Homo sapiens: one gene and its partners. The protein of the gene in region 2 purifies or fractionates together with the protein of the main gene of each other region. This does not show direct contact. Each region holds a gene or a part of one and is shown on either strand. Other genes may lie near its edges.

What was found.
Region 1: the proteins of CCDC172 (region 2) and NINL purify together in Homo sapiens (affinity purification with mass spectrometry; 2 studies listed by BioGRID and IntAct, with this or other methods). This does not show direct contact.
Region 3: the proteins of CCDC172 (region 2) and CCDC122 purify together in Homo sapiens (affinity purification with mass spectrometry; 2 studies listed by BioGRID and IntAct, with this or other methods). This does not show direct contact.

Annotation. Positions count from the first base shown.
Region 1 is NC_000020.11:25,582,454-25,590,292, reverse strand, and holds the start of NINL (ninein-like protein), read left to right. Parts: upstream 1-4,761; 5' UTR 4,762-4,838; exon of another isoform or gene 4,839-5,642; coding exon of another isoform or gene 5,643-5,685; exon of another isoform or gene 5,686-5,704; coding exon of another isoform or gene 5,705-5,714; intron 5,715-7,839. UniProt on the Homo sapiens protein: Involved in the microtubule organization in interphase cells. Overexpression induces the fragmentation of the Golgi, and causes lysosomes to disperse toward the cell periphery; it also interferes with mitotic spindle assembly.
Region 2 is NC_000010.11:116,341,364-116,348,474, forward strand, and holds part of CCDC172 (coiled-coil domain-containing protein 172), read left to right. Parts: intron 1-672; coding exon 673-838; intron 839-7,111.
Region 3 is NC_000013.11:43,855,649-43,862,759, forward strand, and holds part of CCDC122 (coiled-coil domain-containing protein 122), read right to left. Parts: intron 4,423-7,111; coding exon 4,024-4,422; intron 3,250-4,023; coding exon 3,133-3,249; coding exon of another isoform or gene 3,085-3,132; exon of another isoform or gene 2,503-3,084; intron 1-2,502.

The DNA of each region.
Region 1 (7,839 bases), on a different chromosome or scaffold from region 2:
TACAGGACCTGAGTGAGAAGAATATGGAACCTCTCTTTTCTACGTTTCCAAGTTTTCTGTAAAGATAACATTAATTCAAAAGAAAAAGTTTTTTTTGTTGTTGTTTCTTTTTTTGTGAGACAGATTTTCGCTCTTGTTGCCCAGGCTGGAGTGCAATGGCGCGATCTCTGCTCACTGCAACCTCCACCTCCCAGGTACAAGCAATTCTCCTGTCTCAGCCTCCCAAGTAGCTCGGATTACAGGCACGCGCCACCATGCCCGGCTGTTTTTCTTTTGTATTTAGTACAGATGGGGTTTCACCAAGTTAGTCAGGCTGGTCATGAACTCCTGACCTCAGGTGACCCACCCACCTCGGCCTCTCCTGCGCCTGGCCAAGAAAATGTTTTTAAAAAGAAGAGCGATCAGGATGTGATGACGTCGCTGTAAGGTATGAGAGAGAGAGTCAAGATTGACTCAAAGGTTCTTTCCTGAACAATTGTGGTGTCAGGATATCCATTGGTTTTCATCCACAGTTACTGGCACATGACTCCCATAGCCCTTGCTACAGTCCTTTGTTATATTGTTGTGTTGGGCCTCATGGGCAGGCCCCTGACCTCCTCCTGGCTTTCTGATTGTGGGTCTTTTTTTTTTTTATTTTATTTTTAGATGGAGTCTCATTCTGTTGCCCAGGCTGGAGTGCAGTGGTGCGACCTTGGCTCACTGTAACTTCTTCGCATCCCGGGTTCAAGCGGTTCTCCTGCCTCAGCTTCCCAAGTAGCTGGGACTATAAGTGTGTGCCACCACGCCCAGCTAATTTTTGTATTTTTAGTAAATATGGTGTTTCATCATGTTGGCCAGGATGGTCTCGATCTCCTGACCTTGTGATCCGCCCACCTCGGCCTCCCAAAGTGCTGGGATTACAGGAGTGAGCCACCGCGCCCTGCCGTCGATTGCAGGTCTTAAGACTCTCCCATGAGAGGGTCTCACCCTATTCCCTGGGAGAAGGAATGCTGATATCATGAAGCTTTCATAAAACCCCAAGAGGACAGGGTTCAGTGAACTTCTGGGTAGGTGAACAGTGGAGGTTCCTGGAGGGTGGTGCCCAGGGAGGTATGGAAGCTCTGCCCCTTCCTCCAAACCTTGCCCTATGTGTCTCTTCACCTGTGTCCTTTACAATATCCATTATAATAAACCAGTGGGCCAGGCATGGTGGCTCACGCCTGTAATCCCAGCACTTTGGGAGGCCAAAGCAGGCAGATCACCTGCGGTCAGGAGTTCGAGACCAGCTTGGCCAACAGGACGAAACCCTGTCTCTACTAAAAATATAAAAATCTAGCCAGGTGTGGTGGCGCATGCCTGTAGTGCCAGCTTCTTGGGAGGCTGAGGCATGACAATCACTTGAACCTGGTAGGCGGAGGTTGCAGTGAGCTGGGATCGCACCACTGCACTCTAGCCTGGGCGACAGAGCAACACTCCGTCTCAAAAATAAATAAATAAAAATAAACCAGTGAACATAAGCGTTTCTCTGAGTTCTGTGAGCCACTCACAGGTAGCAAATTAATCGAAACCAAACAGGGGGTCAGGGGGTCATGGGAACCCCAACTTGAAGCTGATCTGTCAGAAGTTCTGCAGAGGCCCGGCCTTGCAACTGATGTATGTGAGGAGTCTTGGGGACTGAGTCCTCAACTTGTGGGATCTGACACTCTCTCCAGGTAGTGACAGAACTGAATTAGAGGATGCCCAGCTGGTGTCTGCTGCTCAGTGTGTGGAGAAAACCCCACACACATTTAGTCATAGGTCTTCTGTGTTGACTGTTGTGCGGTGTGAGAGTGGAGAGTTTTCTCTACACGACAATAAAATTGGAATGTCTGGAGGTAGGATGCAGGCACTGGTGTTTTTAATTTTTAAGTAGTCAAAGTGGAGAACTCCTAGTCTTCCCACTTCTCTCTGATGAAGAACCACTACATTAACTCATTTAAATTCGGTATGCTCAACTGGGCACGGTGCCTCATGCCTGCAATCTCAGTACTTTGGGGGGCCAAAGTGGGAGGATCATTTTAGCCCAGGAGTTCAAGACCAGCCTGGGCAACATAGACCCCATCTCTACAAAAAATTAGTAAGTTAGCCAGGTGTGGGGGTGCATCTGTAATGCAGCTATTTGGGAGGCTGAGGTGGGAGGATCACTTGAGCCCAGGAGATCAAGGCTGCAGTGAGCTGTGATCACACCACCACACTCCAGCCTGGGTAACAGACTGAGATCCTGTCTCAAGAAATAAAATAACAAATAAATTCAGTACACTCCTGTGCAATGGGTAATTTTTACATTTCTATTTTGCAAATGAAACTGAGATCACAGATGTTACATGACTGGGTGATCCACAGTCAAACAGCTAGTAAGTGGCATGATTCACATCTTCTGACTCCAAATTCATTCTCCAGCCAGTGAGTGGGAGCCCGTGCAGAGCATCAGGAGCACTGAAGAGAAGACATTCTTCACAATGGCAGCCCCCATGGCTCTGAGCACCCCTGGGAATCCAGGGTTATAAACTGGAGTCATCGGGGTCTTGGCTGCGCATCCCACAGGGACCACCTTTGCACGGTGTGTCCTGCCATTGTGCCCCACACTGGTTGGGACAGGTCATGGGCATAGCAAAAGGTATCTGGGCACATTCAGCAGGTCAGAGAAACCTCCCAGCCTAGAACACACTATGAGCGTCTCTGAACCACTCCCTGTGTTTGCCTTTTGCTCTGCATGGGGTTTAGCACTTGCAGGCACTTGGAAATTTCACTCGCCCTTGGAAACTCCGTTCCCCCATAGCCTGTCTTTCATCCTGCTTCCTTCTCACCCCATTTTGCCTCTGATCCTCACATCCTCTAAAGTGGAGTTCCTACAAAGTATATGCACCTTTCTCATGCTACAGTGTACTGTAGCTCATTTTGTAATTCTGATATAACTCTCTGACATTTTTGTATATTTATGTTTTTATTTTTATTTTTTGGAGACAGAGTCTTGCTCTGTCGCCCAAGCTGGAGTCTAGTGGCAAGATCTCAGCTCACTGCAACCTCCGACTCCTGGGTTCATGCAATTCTTGTGCCTCAGCCTCACGAGTAGCTGGGACTACAGGCGCGCGTTAACCACAACTGGCTAATTTTTTTGTGTTTCAGTAGACACTGGGTTTCACCATGTTGGCCACGCTGGTCTCGAACTCCTGTCCTCAGGCAATCTGCCCACAGTGGCCTCCCAAACTACTGGGATTACAGGCATGAGTCACCGTGCCTGGCTGTATTTACTTTTTTTTTTCTTTTTTTGAAATGGAGTCTCACTCTGTCGCCCAAGCTGGAGTGCAGTGGCTTGATAACCACAACCTCCGCCTCCCAGATTCAAGCGATTCTCCTGTCTCAGCCTCCTGAGTAGCTGGGATTACAGGCATATGCCATCACGCCCGGCTAATTTTGTATTTTTAGTAGAGACGGGGTTTCTCCATGTTGGTCAGGCTGGTCTTGAACTCCCGACCTCAGGTGATCCGCCTGCCTCAGCCCCCCAAAGTGCTGGGATGACAGGCATGAGCCACTATGCCCGGCCGGGTATTTACGTTTTTAAATTGTTTTCTGTGTAAACTCTATAAGGGCCAGGGATTTTTTGCACCGCTGTTGGCAGCCCCTAGGACAATGCCTGGCCCTAGTAGGTGTTCGATAAATATATACAGGTTGAATATCCCTTAACCGAGATGCTTGGCACCAGAAGCATTTAGGATTTCAGATTTTGGAATATTTGCATTATACCAATTGAACACCCCTAATCTGAAAATCCAAAATTAGAAATGCTCCAATGAGGCCAGGTGCGGTGGCTCATGCCAGTAATCCCAGCACTATGGGAGGCCAAGGTGGGAGGATCACTTGAGGCCAGAAATTCCAGACCAGCCTGGGCAACATGGTGAAGCCTCCTCTCTTAAAAAAATACAGGCCGGGCGCGGTGGCTCACGCCTGTAATCCCAGCACTTTGGGAGGCCGAGGCGGTGGATCCATCCCTTGAGCCTAGGAGTTCGAGACCAGCCTGGGCAACACAGTGAGACTCTGTGCTAAAAATACAAAAATTAGCGGACATGGTGGCAGATGCCTGCAGTCCCAGCTACTGGGGGTTGGGACGCTGAGGCGGGAGGATCGCCATAGCCGGGAAAGTCGAGGCTGTAGTGAGCCATGACCGCGCCACTGCATCCCAGGCTGGGCAGCAGAAGTGACAGCCTTTCTCAAAAGAAAAGAAAGTTAAAAGAAGAAAAAAGAAGTGCTCCAATGTGCATTTCCTTTGAGCATCAGGTCAGCGCTCAAAAACTTTCAGATTTTGAAGCATTTCGGATTTCAGATGTTTGGATTAGGGATGCTCAACCCGTATTGATTTAATATGCGGTGGAAACGTGACGACCTAGGTTTTAAGTCGCGGTTTCCTCAGTGGTGGGTTTGGGGTATTACCCCTGCCTGGCCGGCCTCCGGGCTTGTTTCCAGAAGATGCTACCCCGAGAGCTGCGAACCGCCAAGCTCCGCAGCGCGCAGGGCTCCGACAGGGACCAGCGAGGTCAGCTCCAAGGGTCACCCCAGGCTCCAAACTGGCCAGAGCCGCCCTGAGATTTGCGGAGGCCGCCTTGCCCCCACCCCGCCCCGCAATCCCGGACCCGACCCGCCCCCTCTCCCGTTCGCTCGCCCCGCCCCCTGTTCGCCCACTGCGCCGGGACACCGAGGGGGCGGTGCCTCGAGGCCGGGAGGAGTGTTGCGTCGCGGCCTCCAGACACAAAGAGCGGCCGGCGGTACGGGGGTGGTGCCGCGCTCCTGGCCCCGCGCGGGCGGACGGCGGAGGCGCCTCCCAGGTGAGCCGGCCCGGGCGTCCGGCGGGACATTCAGGCGGCTGGTGGGGTCGAGAGTCCGGGGCCGCCCCTGCGTCGCGACCCGCGCCTTAGTCACCAGACCCGGCTCCGGGAGCGCGGCCTCGGGTGCTCCTCGCGGTGCGGGGCGCAGACTCGGCGCATCTGCTGTGGTGCCTGCTCTTCCGGTCGCCCTCGAGGGCGGGGCGGGGGTCACGCCCTAAAATACAGCGCCCGCTGGGCCGAACGCTTGAAAACCCGGTTTCCCGACGGCGGCGGCGCGGGCGCCGTGCGAACGAGGGCCCGGGTCCAGCACAGCCCCAAGGCTCGGCCTGAGGCGGGCGGCCTTGGCCGGGGCCCCCCGTGGTAATGAGCTACGCGGTGCCCGCCGCCTGCCCAGCGCGGGCCGTTTCTCCTGACGCCGCCGGCGTCTGGTCGAGGCCCAGGATTCCCTCCTGCCAGTGTGGCTGCGGCCCCCCACGGAGCGGGACCCGCGTTCGTGGCGCTTGGGACGGTTGATTGAAAGGGTGTAGAAGTCTGTTGCGAATTTTATCTGTTGTACTCGTTTTGCAGATTCGCCCCTTTCCTCCCGCCTGTGCGCGCAGTCACACACACCATGTGGGAGTCTCTGATCGCGTTGGGTTCATAATCATCGATCGTGCCTGGGTACTGATGCCCCATTGTTAGGAGCTCTGTGTGGGGCTGTATGTTTGCACAGGACTCACGTGAGGAAGGGTGGCCACGTTTCTTTCTGCTCTGTGAGACTTAGGCCAAGCCCTGGAACTAGGGAGGAGGTTCAGGAAGAGACCCATGAAGCTGGCGGGGCCTTGGAGAAGGGCAAGTGATTTTCAAGGTCAGTAGTAAGAGGGGTCATGAGTAATGGTAAGTTTCTTAGCGGCCTTTGCTGTGACTTCTAGGTTTTTCACACTGGACTTAAAATACTTTTAAAAGCAGAGTTTTTGTTCTTCTTGTTGTTGTTCTTGTTGTTGTTGCTGTTTTTGAAACGAAGTTTCACTCTTGTTGCCCAGGCTGGAGTGCAATGGCGCCATCTCGGCTCACTGCAACCTCTGCCTCCCGGATTCAAGCGATTCTCCTGCCTCAGCCTCCCGAGTAGCTGGGATTACACGCCCAGCTAATTTTTTGTGTTTTTAGTGGAGATGGGGGTTTCACCATGTTGGCCAGGCTGGTCTCGAACTTCTGACCTTCAGGTGATCCAGCTGCCTCGGCCTCCCAAAGTTCTGGGATTACAGGCGTGAGCCACTGCACCCGGCCAAGTTTTTGTTTTGTTTTGTTTTTGTTTTTTAATTTTATTTTACTTTAAGTTCTGGGATACATGTGCAGAACGTTCTGGTTTGTTACATGGGTATACATGTGCCATGATGGTTTGCTGCACCTATCAACCCGTCATCTAGATTTTAAGCCCCACATACATTAGGTATTTGTCCTAATGCTCTCCCTCCTCTTGCCCCCCACCCGCCCCGACAGGTCCCGATGTGTGAGGTGTGTGATGTTCCCCTCCCTGTGTCCATGTGTTCTCATTGTCAACTCCCACTTATGAGTGAGAACATGCGGTGTTTGGTTTTCTGTTCTTGTGTTAGTTTGCTGAGAATGATGGCTTCCCACTTTATGCATGTCCCTGCAAAGGACATGAACTCATTCTTTTTTATGGCTACGTAGTATTCCATGGTGTATCTGTACCACATTTTCTTTATTCAGTCTATCCGTGATGGGCATTTGGGTTGGTTCCAAGTCTTTGCTATTGTAAATAGTGCTGCAATAAACATACACGTTTATGTGTCTTTATAGTAGAATGATTTATAGTCCTTTGGGTATATACCCAGTAATGGGATCACCGGGTCAAATGTTATTTCTGGTTCTAGATCCTTGAGGAATCGCCACACTGTCTTCCACAATGGTTGAACTAATTTACACTCCCACCAACAGTGTAAAAGCGTTCCTATTCCTCCACAGCCTCTCCAGCATCTGTTGTTTCCTTGCTTTTTAATAATTACCATTCTAACTGATGTGAGATGGTATCTCATTGTGGTTTTGATTTGCATTTCTCTAATGACCAGTGATGATGAGCTTTTTTTTTAATATATGTTGTTGGCTGCATAAATGTCTTCTTTTGAGAAGTGTCTGTTCATTTCCTTTGGCCACTTTTTGATGGGGTTGTTTTTTTCTTGTAAATTTGTTTAAGTTCCTTCTATATTCTGGATATTAGACCTTTGTCAGAAGGGTAGATTGCAAAAATTTTACCCCGTTCTGTAGGTTGCCTGTTCACTCTGAAGAGTTTCTTTTGCTGTGGAGAAGCTCTTAGGTTAGATCCCATTTGTCAGTTTTGGCTTTTGTTGCCATTGCTTTTGGTGTTTAGTCATGAAGACTTTGCCCATGCCTATGTCCTGAATAGTATTGCCTAGGTTTTCTTTTAGGTTTTTTATGGTTTTGGGTTTTACATTTAAGTCTTTAATCCATCTTGAGTTAATTTTTGCATAAGGTGTAAGGAAGGAGTCCAGTTTCTGTTTACTGCATATGGCTAGCCAGTTTTCCCAGCACAATTTATTAAATAGGAAATCCTTTCCCCATTGCTTGTTTTTGTCAGGTTTGTCGAAGATCAGATAGTTGTAGAAAGCAGAGTTTGTTTTTTTTTTAAGTAGTTAAAACTCATCTGTTAAACAGAACACTGAATCAGCAGCCTAGCAGTTTTATGAACTGTGTGCAAGAATGCTTGTATATTAAAAGGAAAATGTTCAGGTGTTAGAGAAGCAGTCTACTTTCATGCTTGTCCCTTTTGTTTGACTTATACATCATCCATTAGTGGTTTAAATGATGACAGATTGAATTGATCTGTATTGGCAAATAAAAGTGGGATGTGTGTTTATGTAAAGTTCAGGTGCAATAAAAATTAGAGGATAACTCTTTTTTGTAGAATGAGAAAATAGCAAGCCTTCTCCAAGGAACTTGGACTTCAGATTTTTTCTTTTTAATGTAGAGCCGGGAGTCTTGC
Region 2 (7,111 bases):
TTGAAATGACGTGGCCAGTTTGAAAATGAGGCTTAAAATTCATTGACATAGCTTAGAAAAATATGGTAATGTTTATATTCTAGCATTGTCAAAGAGTTTAGGTTTTTGCATTGTCCACAGTTTTTGGAAATTCTTATTTCTCTGCCATGTTGATACTTCATAAAATGTAAACTATTATTTAAAACTGATTTTGAAGTGAATATATAATTTTGATTTCATCATCCACATTTTAAAAGGTTTTCTTGGCTATCCTTGTTTGTTTGTTTGTTTTCCTGTAAGGCAGTAATCCCTTTAAGTGTAAATTTTAGTTTTTCAGTTTGGCCATTTAATTACTTTACTCTCCAGTTTTATATTATAATTATAAAATGTAATATGATTCTGAATTTTAATACACAAATAAACAGATATAATGATGAGTGGTAGAATATCTACCTCAATAATTCTCCCAAAACTTTAAGATTAAATCTTTCATCTGAAGATAGTTGTTACTATATAATAGCTTCAGTTTTTTATTAATATTACTATGAGAAAAAAACATTTTTGCCATAAAACCAGGAAGTGTAACTATATACTTTCATTGTTAATAATTCCAAATTATTATATTTTAAATAATTAAGGAAAAATATTATTGCAACTAACACCTATATTTGATCTTTTATTTATGTTTTTCAGGAGGCTATAAAGAAACAAATGATAGAGGAGGAAGACAAATTTATTAAGGAAATTACAGACTTTAATAATGATTATGAAATAACAAAGAAAAGAGAGCTTTTGATGAAAGAAAATGTCAAGATTGAAATATCTGACTTAGAAAACCAAGCAAACATGTTGAAAAGTGGTATGAATAAATATCACCTCATTTGTCTTGCATTAATGAAAATAACTTATTTTGAATGAATGAATTTTCCAAAAATTTAACTTTTTCATGAGCAAATTGGGTTATTGCATAGCGATTCTTTTACTTTTATTGATTTAATGAAGATGTATCTTCTATTGTGAGCAGTTTCAAATGATTTAGAAGTACATGTGACATGAACATTTGGTCATTCATTTAATAAATAAATATCTGTTATGTGATAGGCACTGTTCTAGGTCTTGAAGATATAACAATAAAAAGTGGAGGAAGAAAATATGTAAGCAGACATTTACAGCACATTGTGATGGAAGCTACAGTAGGGGTTAGGATTGGTGCCCTAATCCTCTAACAATCCAGGAGAAGCTAGGAATAAGTTTACACAGTGGAGTGGAGAGAGTTTTATTTCAGGAACACTAGTGAAGGTTTGGGTCTGTGTCCCCATGCAAATGTCGTGTCAAATTGTAATCCTTAATGTTGGAGGTTGGGCCTGGTGGGAGGTGATTGGCTCATGGGGGCAGGTTTCCCCTTTGGTGCTATTCTCATGACATTGAGTGAGTTATCATGAGATTTGGTTGTTTAAAAGTATGTAGCACCTCCTGCTTCTCTCTGTTCTTCCTGCTCTGGCCATGTAAGATGTTCCTGCTTCCCCTCTGCCTTCCACCACGATTTTAAGTTTTCTGAGGCCTCCCCAGCCATGCTCCCTCTATAGCTTCCAGAACCATGAGCTAAGTAAATCTCTCTTCTTCTTCTTCTTCTTTTTTAATAAATTACCCAGTCTCGGGTAGTTCTTTATAGTAGTGCAAGAATGGACTAATACAACTAGTATGTGGGTTATTGCAATCTTTGATAAGATCCTGAATTAAAGCAGTTGCCAAGTAGGGAAAGTCAAGGATAAATCAGTTTTCAAACTTCAGAGATTCTATTATAGCATTAGCTTAATGTCCAGTATTTCCTCATCTAAACTAGGTTCAATTGCACATGAGGCTCCTTGGATGTAGTTGCTTATGTAACTCCTTGAGTACATGTCCTCTTGATCTGAAGACCTCAGCCAAAGAAACAGTTGCCCTTCATATTCCCAATATACTATGGTGAGATAGGCATAGGATAATCACTAGTGATACTTCTGTTCAGAAAGCAGAAAAACTGGAGTCATTGTTATATAGCAATTCTGAAATTGAGCCAGGCAAGTATTGGACATTCCTTGATTAGGACTCAGTCATCCTCCCTCCTGGGAATGATTCCCCATGACTCTTGACACTACTCTCTGTGCTCCTATTTCCCTTCTCTGATCATTCGTTTTTTTTTTTTTTTTTAAAAAAATATATATAAAAGATAGCTTGCATTTGCAATTGTCCTGTGCCTGCTTCCATTCTGTAAAAGTTGCGTATCATTCCTTTTTTTTACTGCCTCTGTCCATTTCAGTCCAAGCTCACTGTGTTCATGTAAATACAGTGCTCTTAAAAACTTTGTGGGTCTCACGTGAATCCTACTGAGGCTCACTTCATTAGGGAAAAGCCACAACTACAAATTTCTTTGAGATAAGCCCTTTTATACTTTGGCCTTTTGCTAAAACTACTGAGACAATATTCTTAAACTTCTTGGCCCTATACTTTGACTGAATGGTTCTCTGAGGCATCACCTTGGATTTTTCTGAGGTTTTAGGAAAGGCTTTTTAATTCACATGCTAGATTTAGTCTTTATGATTTCTTAAGAATATTGGATTTTTTTCTTTACCCTCAAGACATTTCTTAGTGGTGAGAATGAAGACAGGGAGGGCATCTTGTAGTAAGGCTACCAAAGTTGTTTATTTTAATTCCAGAACAACCATTAAGGAAATAATCCAAAAACAAATAGCTAAAAGGACAATATAGAAATTAAAATACACATTTAATCTGAAAGAAAGTGGGAAAGGGAAAGAGGGGAACAAAAACACAGAACAGACAGAAAACTAATAATAAAATGATACACTTGAATCCATTTGCAATCATGCATCACTTTAATAATGGGGATATGTTCTGAGAAATGCATTCTTAGTCAGTATCATCGTGTGAACATCATAGATTGTACTTACACAAACCTGGATGGGATAACCTATTACACACCTGGGCTATATGGTATAGCCTATTGCTCCTAGGCTGTAAGCCTGTACTCAATGTTACTATACTGAAGACTGTAGGCAGTTGGAACACAATGGCAAGTATTTGTCTACCTAAACATATATAAATCTAGAAAAGGTACAGCAAAAATACAGTATAAATGATTTTAAAAATCTCTATAGGGCACCTTTATAGGGTATTTACCATGAATGGAGCTTGTAGAGCTGGAAGTTGCTCTGGGCGAGTCAGTGAGTGAATGGTGTGTGAATGTGGAGGCCTAGAACATTACTGTATGCTACTGTAAACTTTATAAACACTGTGTATTTAGGCTACACTAAGTTTGTAAAAAGAATTTTTCTTCCAAAGTAAATTAACATTAACTTCAGCTTACTGTAACTTTTTTACTTTATAAACCTTTTATTATTTTTGACTCTTCTAATAACACTTAGTTTAAAACACATGTTGTATGAATATACAAAAAATTTTTTTCTTTGTATCCTTATTCTACAACTTTCTTCTATCTTAGAAATTATTTTTTTACTTGAAACTAAAAAAAAAAAAAAAAACCTAAAACACAAACATGCACATTAGGCTTACACAGAGTCAGTATCACAATATCACTGTCTTCCACCTCTACATCTTGTCCCACTGGAAGGTCTTCAGGGACATGGAGCTATCATCTTCTATGAGAACAATGCCTTTGTATATGGAAATACAAATGACTTACAAAATCAAAACAATTTTAAAAAGAATAAAATTTAAGGATTTATATTCTGTGATTTCAAAATTTACTCAAATTCTATAGTAATCAAGATAATGTGTCACTGCCTTAAAAATAGGCATATAAATAGCTGGAACAGAAGAGTCCAGAAATAGAAATGCATATTGTCAACTGGTTTTCAACAAAGATGGAAAGGCAGTTCAGTGGGAAAAGGAAAGTATTTTCAATAAGTGGTGCTAGAAGAATTGGACATCCATTGCAAAACAATGATCCTTAACTCTTCACACCGTATTATAAATTAACTCAAAATAGGCATACACCTAGACACAAAAGCTAAAATTATGAATTTCCTAGAAGAAAACATAGGAGAAAATCTTTTCCATCTTGGAATAGGCAATGATTTCTTAGATGGGACACAAGAATCATGAACCGTAAAAAGAAAAACAGATTTAAAATAAATTGAAAAGACACTTAAGAAAATTAGAAGACAGACAACAGTCTTGGAGAGAATATTTGCATTAAATATATCTTCCAATGTACTGTTATCCAGAACATAATGAACTCTAACAACTTAAAAAATAAGAAAGGCAAAAAGCCAATTATAAAAGGGAAAAAAGTTGAACTTCACAATAGAGTACTAATGGCCAATGAACATGTGAAAAGATACTCAATATCTTTAGTCATTTGGAAAATACAAATTAAAACGGCAGTGATATATCACTGTATATCCACTTAATTAAAGTTAAAAAGACTGACCATACCAAACGTTGCTGAGAATGTGGAGCATCTGATACTCATATGGTAGTGATGGGAATGTAAAATTAATGGTACAATCACTTTAGAAAATTGTTTTGCAGTTTCTTAACAAGCTAAATGTACATTTACCATACAGCCCAGCCACTCCACAATGAGATACTCCAGAGAGATGAAACCTATATCCTAACGTTTTGGCAGTTTTATTCACAGTAGTCAAAAATTGAACATAACTTAAATGTCCGTTAAGAAGTGAATGGTTTCGGAGGCCGAGGTGGGCGGATCACAAGGTCAGGAGTTCAAGACCAGCCTGGCCAACATAGTGAAACCCCGTCTCTACTAAAACCAAAAAATTAGCCGGGCGTGGTGTCGGGCACCTGTAATCCCAGCTACTCAGGAGGCTGAGGCAGAAGAATGGCTTGAACCCAGGAGGCGGAGGTTGCAGTGAGCCAAGATCGCGCCATTGCACTCCAGCCTGGGTGACAGAGTGAGACTTCGTCTCAAAAAAAAAAAAAAAAAAAAGGAAGTAAATGGTTAAACAAAATTGACATATCTATGCAACGGAATACTTGGCAATAAAAATGACTAATTCTACTGATGCACTACATGGACCTATTTCAAAATAATATGATGATTAAAAGAAGCTAGACACATGCAAACTAACGTAAAGCCATGGCAAGCAGATCAATGGTTGCCTGGGTCAAAATGAATGAACTGTGAAGGGTCACAAATAATCTTTTGGGTTGATAGAAATGTACAGTTTCTTGCCTGTGGGTGTTTCATAGGTGTCAGTGACTGTCAAAAGTCATGAAATTGTATGCTCTAAATGAATATACTTTATGTAAATTATTCCTCTTTAAAATTAAGAAAAAAAAAAGTCCCTGATATCACAGATGCTATTGGAGCCCTCTAGTTTAGTTCTCTTTTTCTAGAAATATGGATTTATTTTAAAAGATTTGTTTTCAGAGTACCTGATATTGTTGATTTTTTATTCTTTCAGAAAGTCTGTTTCTAGGTATTTCATAACATTTTCATATAAAACTTTAATCTTTTTAATAGCAGGGACTTTATTTTGATTAATGTGCTGGCCCCAACAGTATGAATGAGATAATAATAAATTGATGACTGCTTCAAAAGGAGAAGCACAAGATGATATGAGAACATATATAAGTAGACTTAAACTGGACTAGGAAGTTAAGGAAGATTTCCCTGAACAAGTTGCCTTCAGAGTGAGGTCTGAAGAATGATACTGATTAGCCAAGTGAGAGATTTGAGTGTAGATGTCAATTAGATAGTTGTAATTTAAGTCAAGAGCTCAGAGATAGTTCTGGGCTAGAGCTATTAAATTTTGGGACTCACCTAGAGAGAATGTATTGAAAGAAAATGGACAGTACCCTGCAGAACCTCAGGATTTTCAAAAACTTGAGTGAAGAGTCTAAGACGGCTTCATGAAAGATGGGCAGAACACGTTACTGAGTGGAGTTGACATCACCTAGGGAGAGAGTATTTGAAGGCATGATCAACCCATGTTGATTGCTGCTGAGCTGTCAACTAGAATAAGGACTAAGAAGCAGCAATCAGAGGTCATTGGTGGCCTTCAGGAAAGGGAGCAGATTGAGGTAATAAGCAGGGCAAAAGCCAAATTGTAAGGAGTTGAGCAGAAGGAAGAGCAGAAATGGGATATCTATTAATAAAATTCATTACATTAATAGATTACAGTTGGAAAAGCATATGATTGTTTTTAAAAAGGCGATGTAGAGGGAAGGAGGGAAAAATGGTGGAGGAGAGGTGAAAGGAGAGGAAGAAGGAGAGGGAGAGCTTCACTCTGACATCATGATTAACAATGAAACTCTAGAAGTATTTCCATAAAAGTTAGTAATAAGGGAGGGTATCCAATATCATCACTATTATATAACAGTGTTCTAAAAGTATCAGCCAGTAAAATTAGAAACACAGTAAATATTGGAAAACAAAGACAAAATTGTCATTAGTTGAAGCTGATACAACTTGATTTCACTGGGTTTTCTATGTTTAGTTGCATCCTCCACCATTCTTCCCTCCCTCCCACTACATCTCCTTTTTGAGACATTCATATTTCCAACTGTAATCTATTGATGTAATAAATTTTATTTATATATATCCTATCACTAACCTTACTTAGCTGTGCACTCTTAGTCTTCTAATGTATTACTGAATTTTATTTGATAACATCTTCTTTAAGATTTTTGCATCAGTATATGTGAGATTCATCTTTGTGTGTGTATTATGTTGATTTCACAAAAAGCATACTGACGCTTTTTTCTTTCTCTGCTTGGAAAAATGTACGTACTATAATTATCTATTCCTTCAGGGTTCAAAAGAATTAACCTATGAAACGGTTTGTGGCAACTCTTCTTGGTGGTGGTGGTGGTGGAGAAAGAAGTTGTTCAAATTTTAAGCAGATATTAGAGCTGTTGACTTCCCAGAGCAGTTTAGCTTCCATTTGTCTTCTTACCTGTCAGTGTTTGCTCTTCCATTCCCACTTCTAATTCGTGCCACCACATCTGTTATTTTCTGGCATTTGACTTTTCTCCTCTTTCTTCCTTCATTCTGACCTTGCCCACTGAGCTTTTAGCCCATAACTATGATTAGTCAGCCAGTTTCATTGGGTTTTGAATAATCTCCATTTTTAACTTCATAGCTATT
Region 3 (7,111 bases), on a different chromosome or scaffold from region 2:
TACCATCATCACTAGTATCAAAAAGTAAAAAAATAAAACAAAACAAACAAACAAACAAAAAACATGCTGACAAGGTTGCAGAGAAAAAGAACACTTATTATACACTGTTGGTGGGAGTGTAAATTAGTTCAACCATTGTGGAAGACAGTGTGGCAATTCCTCAGACTTAAAAACAGAATCCCATTCAACCCAGCAATCCCATTACTGATTATATACCCAAAGGAATATAAATCATTCTATCATAAAGACACATACACGTGTAAGTGCATTGCAGCAATATTCACAATAGCAAAGACATGGAATCAACCTAAATGCCCATCAGTGGTAGTCTGGATAAAGAAAATATGGTACATATACACCATGAAATACTATGCAGCCATAAAAAGAATGAGATTATGTCCTTTGCAGGAACATGAATGGAGCTGGAGGCCACTATCCTAAGTGAATTAATGCAGAAACAGAAAACCAAATACTGGATGTTCTCACTTATAAGTGGGAGCTAAATGATGAGAACTTATGGACACATAGAGGGAAACAACACACACTGGAGGGTGAGAGGAGGGAAAGGATCAGGAAAAATAACTAATGGGTACTAGGCTTAATACCTGGCTATTGAAATAATCTGTACAACAAACTATGACAGAAATTTACCTATATAACAAACCTGCATACATACCCCTGAACTTAAAAGTTAAATTAAGGCTGGGCGCGGTGGCTCACGCCTGTAATCCCAACACTTTGGGAGGCCGAGGCGGGTGGATCATGAGGTCAGGAGATCAAGACCATCCTGGCTAACATGGTGAAACCCCGTCTCTACTAAAAATGCAAAAAATTAGCTGGGTGTGGTGGCAGGCGCCTGTAGTCCCAGCTACTCCGGAGGCTGAGGCAGGAGAATGGCGTGAACCTGGGAGGCAGAGCTTGCAGTGAGCCGAGATTGCACTACTGCACTCTAGCCTGGGCGATGGGGCGAGACTCTGTCTCAAAAAAAAAAAAAAGAAAAGAAAAAATCTCTCAATAATTTGTTTTCATGTATAAAACTTTGTTGCAGGATATCTGACAAAAATCGGTGAACTGTATGGTATGTGAATTTTATCTTAGTAAAGCTGTTTATAAAAATCAGAATAGTGGCTATTTGATAAAAAGGGTAGAAGAGAACTTTCTGGACATGCTGGGAAAGTTCTATATCTTGATCTAGGTAATGCCAACATAAATATATGTACATGTTAGTCTAAATAAATCAAGCCATCCATTTATAATTTGTGTACTTACTCTTATGACAATTATACCTCAATAAAATATGTTACTGTAAAAAAATTAAAAGGTAATTTCACATTTCTTTCCAAAGTGCTTTTAGCAATTTACATTCACAAGAATACTGTATTAAAATTCCCACGCTCAACATCTCCCAACTGTAATACCGATAATCAGATGGGCTAAACATGGAACTTTGCTGTGGTTTTAATTATCAGTCTCTTATTGCTAATGAGGATGGTCATATTTTTCTTTATTTCTGATATTCATGGTTCAGAAAAATGGTCTTTTTATACCATTTGCCCAATGTTTCACTGATTTGACATTTTCTTATCTCTTTCTTATCACATACATGTGTTATAATAATCTAGAATGGAGTCTTGTTCTTTCTCTTGTGATGGTATATTCCCATAATCTGGAAATTTATGGCATAGTCAAAACTAAAGATATTTAACCACAGAATTTATGGAGTGTTTTTCTCTTTTAAAATAAATGCTTTTCTGACACAAATTTTTAAGTTTTTATCCTATGTTGTATTCAATACTTAGAAGTGTGTGTGTGTGTGTGTGTGTGTGTGTGTGTGCACGTGTGTATTATGAGGTAGGAATCCAGTTTTATTTCAACATTTTTCTTTATTTTTCCATAGAGGTAATCTATTTTGTTTTTACCACTCAAGGATGCATAATTTCTGGATTCTTTTTTTCATTAATAATTTTTTTCTGGCCGGGTGTGGTGGCTCACGCCTGTAATCCCAGCACTTTGGGAGGCCGAGGCAGGCGGATCACCTGAGGTCAGGAGTTTGAGACCAGCCTGGCCAACATGGTGAAACCCCATCTCTACTAAAAATACAAAAATTAGCTGGGCATTGTGGTACGTGCCTGTAATCCCAGTTATCTGGGAGGCTGAGATGGGAAAATCGCTGGAACCCGGGAGGCCGAGGCGGCAGTGAGCTGAGATCGCACCACTGTACTCCAGTCTGGGTGACAGAGCAAGACTCCGTCTCAAAAATAAAGAAAAAATAATAATAATAATATTTTTTTCTACTCTTTTACCACTGATACACTGTCTTACTATTTATTGTTTTATAATGAACCTTAATGTCTACAAGGGCAAAAAGAATCGTTATTTAGATTCCTAGTAAACTAAAAGGTAAAATCGTGATATTTTTTAATAGCGAATATGTAAAGATGAGGATTTTTATCTTTAATTTCCTCAGATGCTTTGTATTGTGTCAAATTAGTCAAAAACAAGTTGAAACATGCATATTTTTATTTTCCAAATTAATGTATTCAGGCAAAAATTATTTGCCCTTAATAGCATATTATTTTACATTTCTGTTCACCATTCATCCAAACAATAATGACAATAGAAGTCCACAGGCAGCACCACAACACATTATGAATTTACTCTGACTTTCAATTTTGCATATTTTCAGTTTGTTTTTTTAACTTGACTCTTGATAATTGCGAATATGAAGTCAGAGAGGTTTGGAAAGACGATGCTTTCCATTGTGTTTTATTCTATTTTGAGGAGTCTTTGATATCTAAGAATGGGCATCCTCTTTGACTACATAGCTGCTTTCTAGCCATTAATTGGGTATCATGTTCTTAGTGGAATGAGAAAAACCTGGAAGAACCCTCGCCCAGATTTAAATAGGAGTGAATGCTTGCATTGTTTGAACACATTCACATATTTGAACATCTTTGAATGAGGGGGTTATCTCTAGTTATCTATTAATGATTTGTATTTACTAAATTTTATAGTTCTTTCTTGTTCTTCAACTGTTTTGAGTATTGAGAGTAAACTATGGAAATATGAATATAGTGTTAAGTTTTAAAAATGGTCCCATAAAACATTGAAATCTAGATAATTAAGACTTACCTCTATTTCTTTTCTTAATTTTTCATGTGTCTTTTTTTCTTCCTCAAGAAAACAAGTTTTTTCAATGATAGATTCTTTTACAGTTATAATTTTATCCTTTAAGTTTGTAATGTCTTCCTGTATGTTGACAACATTTGAAATATAGAAGTCAAAAAAGGATGATCAATATAAATCCAATTTTTCAGTGTTTCTATAATTTAAGAAAACTAGCCAAATCAAAATTTAGTTTTGATAAATAGCATTAGAATATTACTTCTATACGTATACAAAAATAAAGAACTGTTACTCAAAGAAACCTTACATTTGACACAGAACTAAAAACCAAATGAAAATAAGACAAAAAGGAAAGTGGTAGTTATGGTGGCAACTGCCGAACAACAGTGTAAAAGACACTTTTTAATTCTCTAGCAAGAAATGATCAATATTTTAAGTTTGTGTCTTCTATCGTCTTCAAAGAACAGTAAGAGAAATAGTAAGATGCTTAAGGTTCAGTTATTAATTTATATTGCTTGCATAACACCATTAAGTGTACTAAATTGATTTGAATTGGTCTGGATCCATTGGCATAGAAGCTAAGTCTTTAACATTTTTGTGAATTACATTTTCTACAACAAATGGATTAATTGTTCACTGTGATTTTATTTGACCATGTAGTTTTATAAATCTACAGGGGATTTGTGGATGTTTCCTTTATGCATTTGAGCATCTAGGGTCGTTGTTATATAACACATGTACTTATTCCAAGTTTTTTTCAATTATGAAAATAGTTTCTGAAGGTAATAGGACAGCTATGGGCATTTTATTAACTTCACAATAAATTTATCATTTAATGTATGTACTTGCAAAAAAGGAGTAATAGAAAAAATAGTTTTACTAAGTAATTTTGCACACCTGTACTTGTGTTATTCGGTTCCCTCCTGGATTTTGAAGATCTTGCATAAGTTCTTCTTTCATTGTCTTTAATTTTTTAACAAAATCTCGCTTTTCATGGAGTTCAGTCATAAATGACCATTTGCTCTCTACTTCCCCCAAACTATTTTTATGTGCTTTTATTTTTGCATAATATGCATTATATTTTATCATGTGTTCCTCAAAATCTTCTTGGGCTGTTTCTATGTCAAATTTAAGCTTTACATTTTCTGAATGTAAGGATTTGATTTGAGTTTCCAGGCTATCACAATGAAGTTTGGTATTCTCTATGGCAGAATCTTGTTGATAAATTTGTCTTTCTGTTTCTTTAGTTTCTGCAGAGATAGCTGCTATTTCTTTTTCAAGCTCATGAAGTTCATTCTGTAATACATTTTAACATTATCATTATTAATTCAAAATATTAAACATGAGAGGAAAATCAATGTTTTAATCCATAATGAATATAGGAAAAATCACTTATAAGAATATATTTATCAGATATTTAAAAATTAATGAATACAAGGAAACATGCAATAAACACAATTATTTTATAATTTCAGAAGGACCTCAGTTATATATTTTTTAATGTTCATCTAATTCTAAATATTAAAATCTCATTGTTTTATCTTGACATTTTATATATGTAAGATACTTTATAATAATTTTACTAATTTATTTATAGGCATCAGAAGTATACACTCAGGGAAGACAATATGATAAAAAATGATAAAGCCCTGAGTTAAGAATCAAAAGATCTAGGTCCAGCACACTTATTGCTATTTACTACTTCGTATGATCATGCATAACAAACTTAATTACCCCATTCAAACTACACTTTCTCCATTTGTAAAATGAGTATAAAGATATTTACTTTGCCTCCCTGGGGCATTTTGCATTGCTAACTGCTGCCTTCTTTTTAAAGCCTAGTTTTCACACCACCAGTCTTCTGGTTCTCCTTAGAAATTTCTGAGAATTCCTTCTCAATCTCAACAGTTCCTTCAAATATAGGTCTTCTGCAGATTTCAGTCATCATAATTTCCTCTTCTCACTCTCTATATATGCTCCTTGGGTAATTTCACCCAAATTTACATCTTCAGCTACATATCTGCCGATGATTCACAGAATATAAGTGGCTGCTGAGTTCTACACCCAGCTGCCAATGGCCACCTCTAATTCACTATATCCAAAAATTGAATGAATCCTTTCTACAACCTCAGCCTATTACTCCTTGTATCAATTATCTGTTGCCAGAATCACAAAACCTCAGTAGCATACAACAATACATAAGTATATATTGCTGACATGACTAGGAGCAGCTGAGGTTGGCTAGGTAGTTCATAAGCCTGGGAGAAGCAAGGGTTGGCTAGGTGGTTCTGCTGATCTTGATTGAATCTGCCCAAGTGTCTGGGGATTGGCTGATTGTAAGATGATTTAAATTGGCTTTAACTGGGCTGACAGGGGTGTCTTGGCTTTGCTTTATGTGTATCTTCTCCTCCAATGGGCCAACCCAGGCATGTCTTATGATAATAATAGATGCAGAAGAGTGAAATTCAGTTATGGAAGAGTTTTTTAAAGCTTTTGTTTCAGTCACAACTGATAACACCCCAGCTAGTTACATAATCAAACCCAGAGTCAAGGGGTGGAAGTGTGTCCATCCATTATGGGAAAGCATTGTAATGTATGGCAAAGGGTACGGATAGACTAACGGATGAAAAACTGGGACCAAAAATGCAAATGATCACACTCCTATGTTCCCCAACTTAGTTAATGTTACCACCTTAGCTCTTCCCTTCTTTTAAATAACTGTCTAAATGTTTCTCAAATTCTGTAGATCTTCCCACCAAAATAACTCTGTAGGCCATCCTCCATAGTCCTCTTCTTATCTACTATGGTCATTCTTTTTAAGTAAATTTGTAATGTTAGAGGGCATTGTTTTAAAAAATGCAAACTTCCTTGTATCCTTTTCCTGGCAGAGAAAAAGGAGGTAAGTTCACTGAAAAATACAATATGGCAATGAACCTCAATTTTTATCATCAGCTCTGATGTTTCAAATGCTCACTTGACATTTTTATATGTATGTTTACCAGACATCTCAACTATACATATTCAGAAAAAAAGTTTAATTTACACACCAAACATATTCCTCCCCCAGACTTTCTGATTTCAATAAACTGTACCACTTTCCACCTGGATACTCAAAAGCCTAGAAATCATTCTTGATTCTTCCCTTTCCCTTACCCCCACAACCTATTTCTCATCAAATCCTGATGGTTGGGCCTCCAAAATAAAATCCCCAATGCACTTCTGACCAGTCTTTGTAGTGTGACCTAATGTCTAACTCATCTCCCTATTTCCGTTCCTCCCCACTCCCCCAACTAGTCTGTGTATATCAGGCAGAAGAATCTTTTCAAAACATAAATCATATCATGTTATTTCCCTGCTCAACATCCTCCAGTGGTTTCCCATTGCATTAATAAAAAATTTCAAATTCCTGAAAGTGTTTTATAAGCCATATATGCCCTAGTGCCTATCTACTTTGCTATGCTTCTCATCTACTACTCTCCCTTTTTCCAGTCTCCTTTGTGTTGATTAAATATGTATAGTTCCTTCCGACCTAACGGCTTTTTAAATTATTGTTTGGTCTACTTTAAAATTCTCTACCCCTGGCTATTATCTGTTGGGTCTTTGTCTTTCACAATTCAGTATTATTATTATGTCTCAGAAGAGTCTTCCCTAAATCAAAATATAAATGAACCAACCACTATTCCACTCCTCCTCTAGTTACTCTCTACACATTACCCCATTGTATTTCCTTTGTAATACATCAATCTTTGAATTATCTTTATTTTGTTAATTTATTGCTTGCTTCCCCTGACTAGAAAGTAAGCTCTGTGGCTACAGGAACCATGTCTGTCTTCATTACCACCATCTTCCCACTGCTTAAAACAGTAACTGACACAAAGTAGGTGCTCAATAAATAAATAAATTCATTCAATAAATGAGTGAATGACTGATGCACAACCAATGGTCAGGAAAGGGACATATGCCCTGCTGGTTACATCAGGCTATC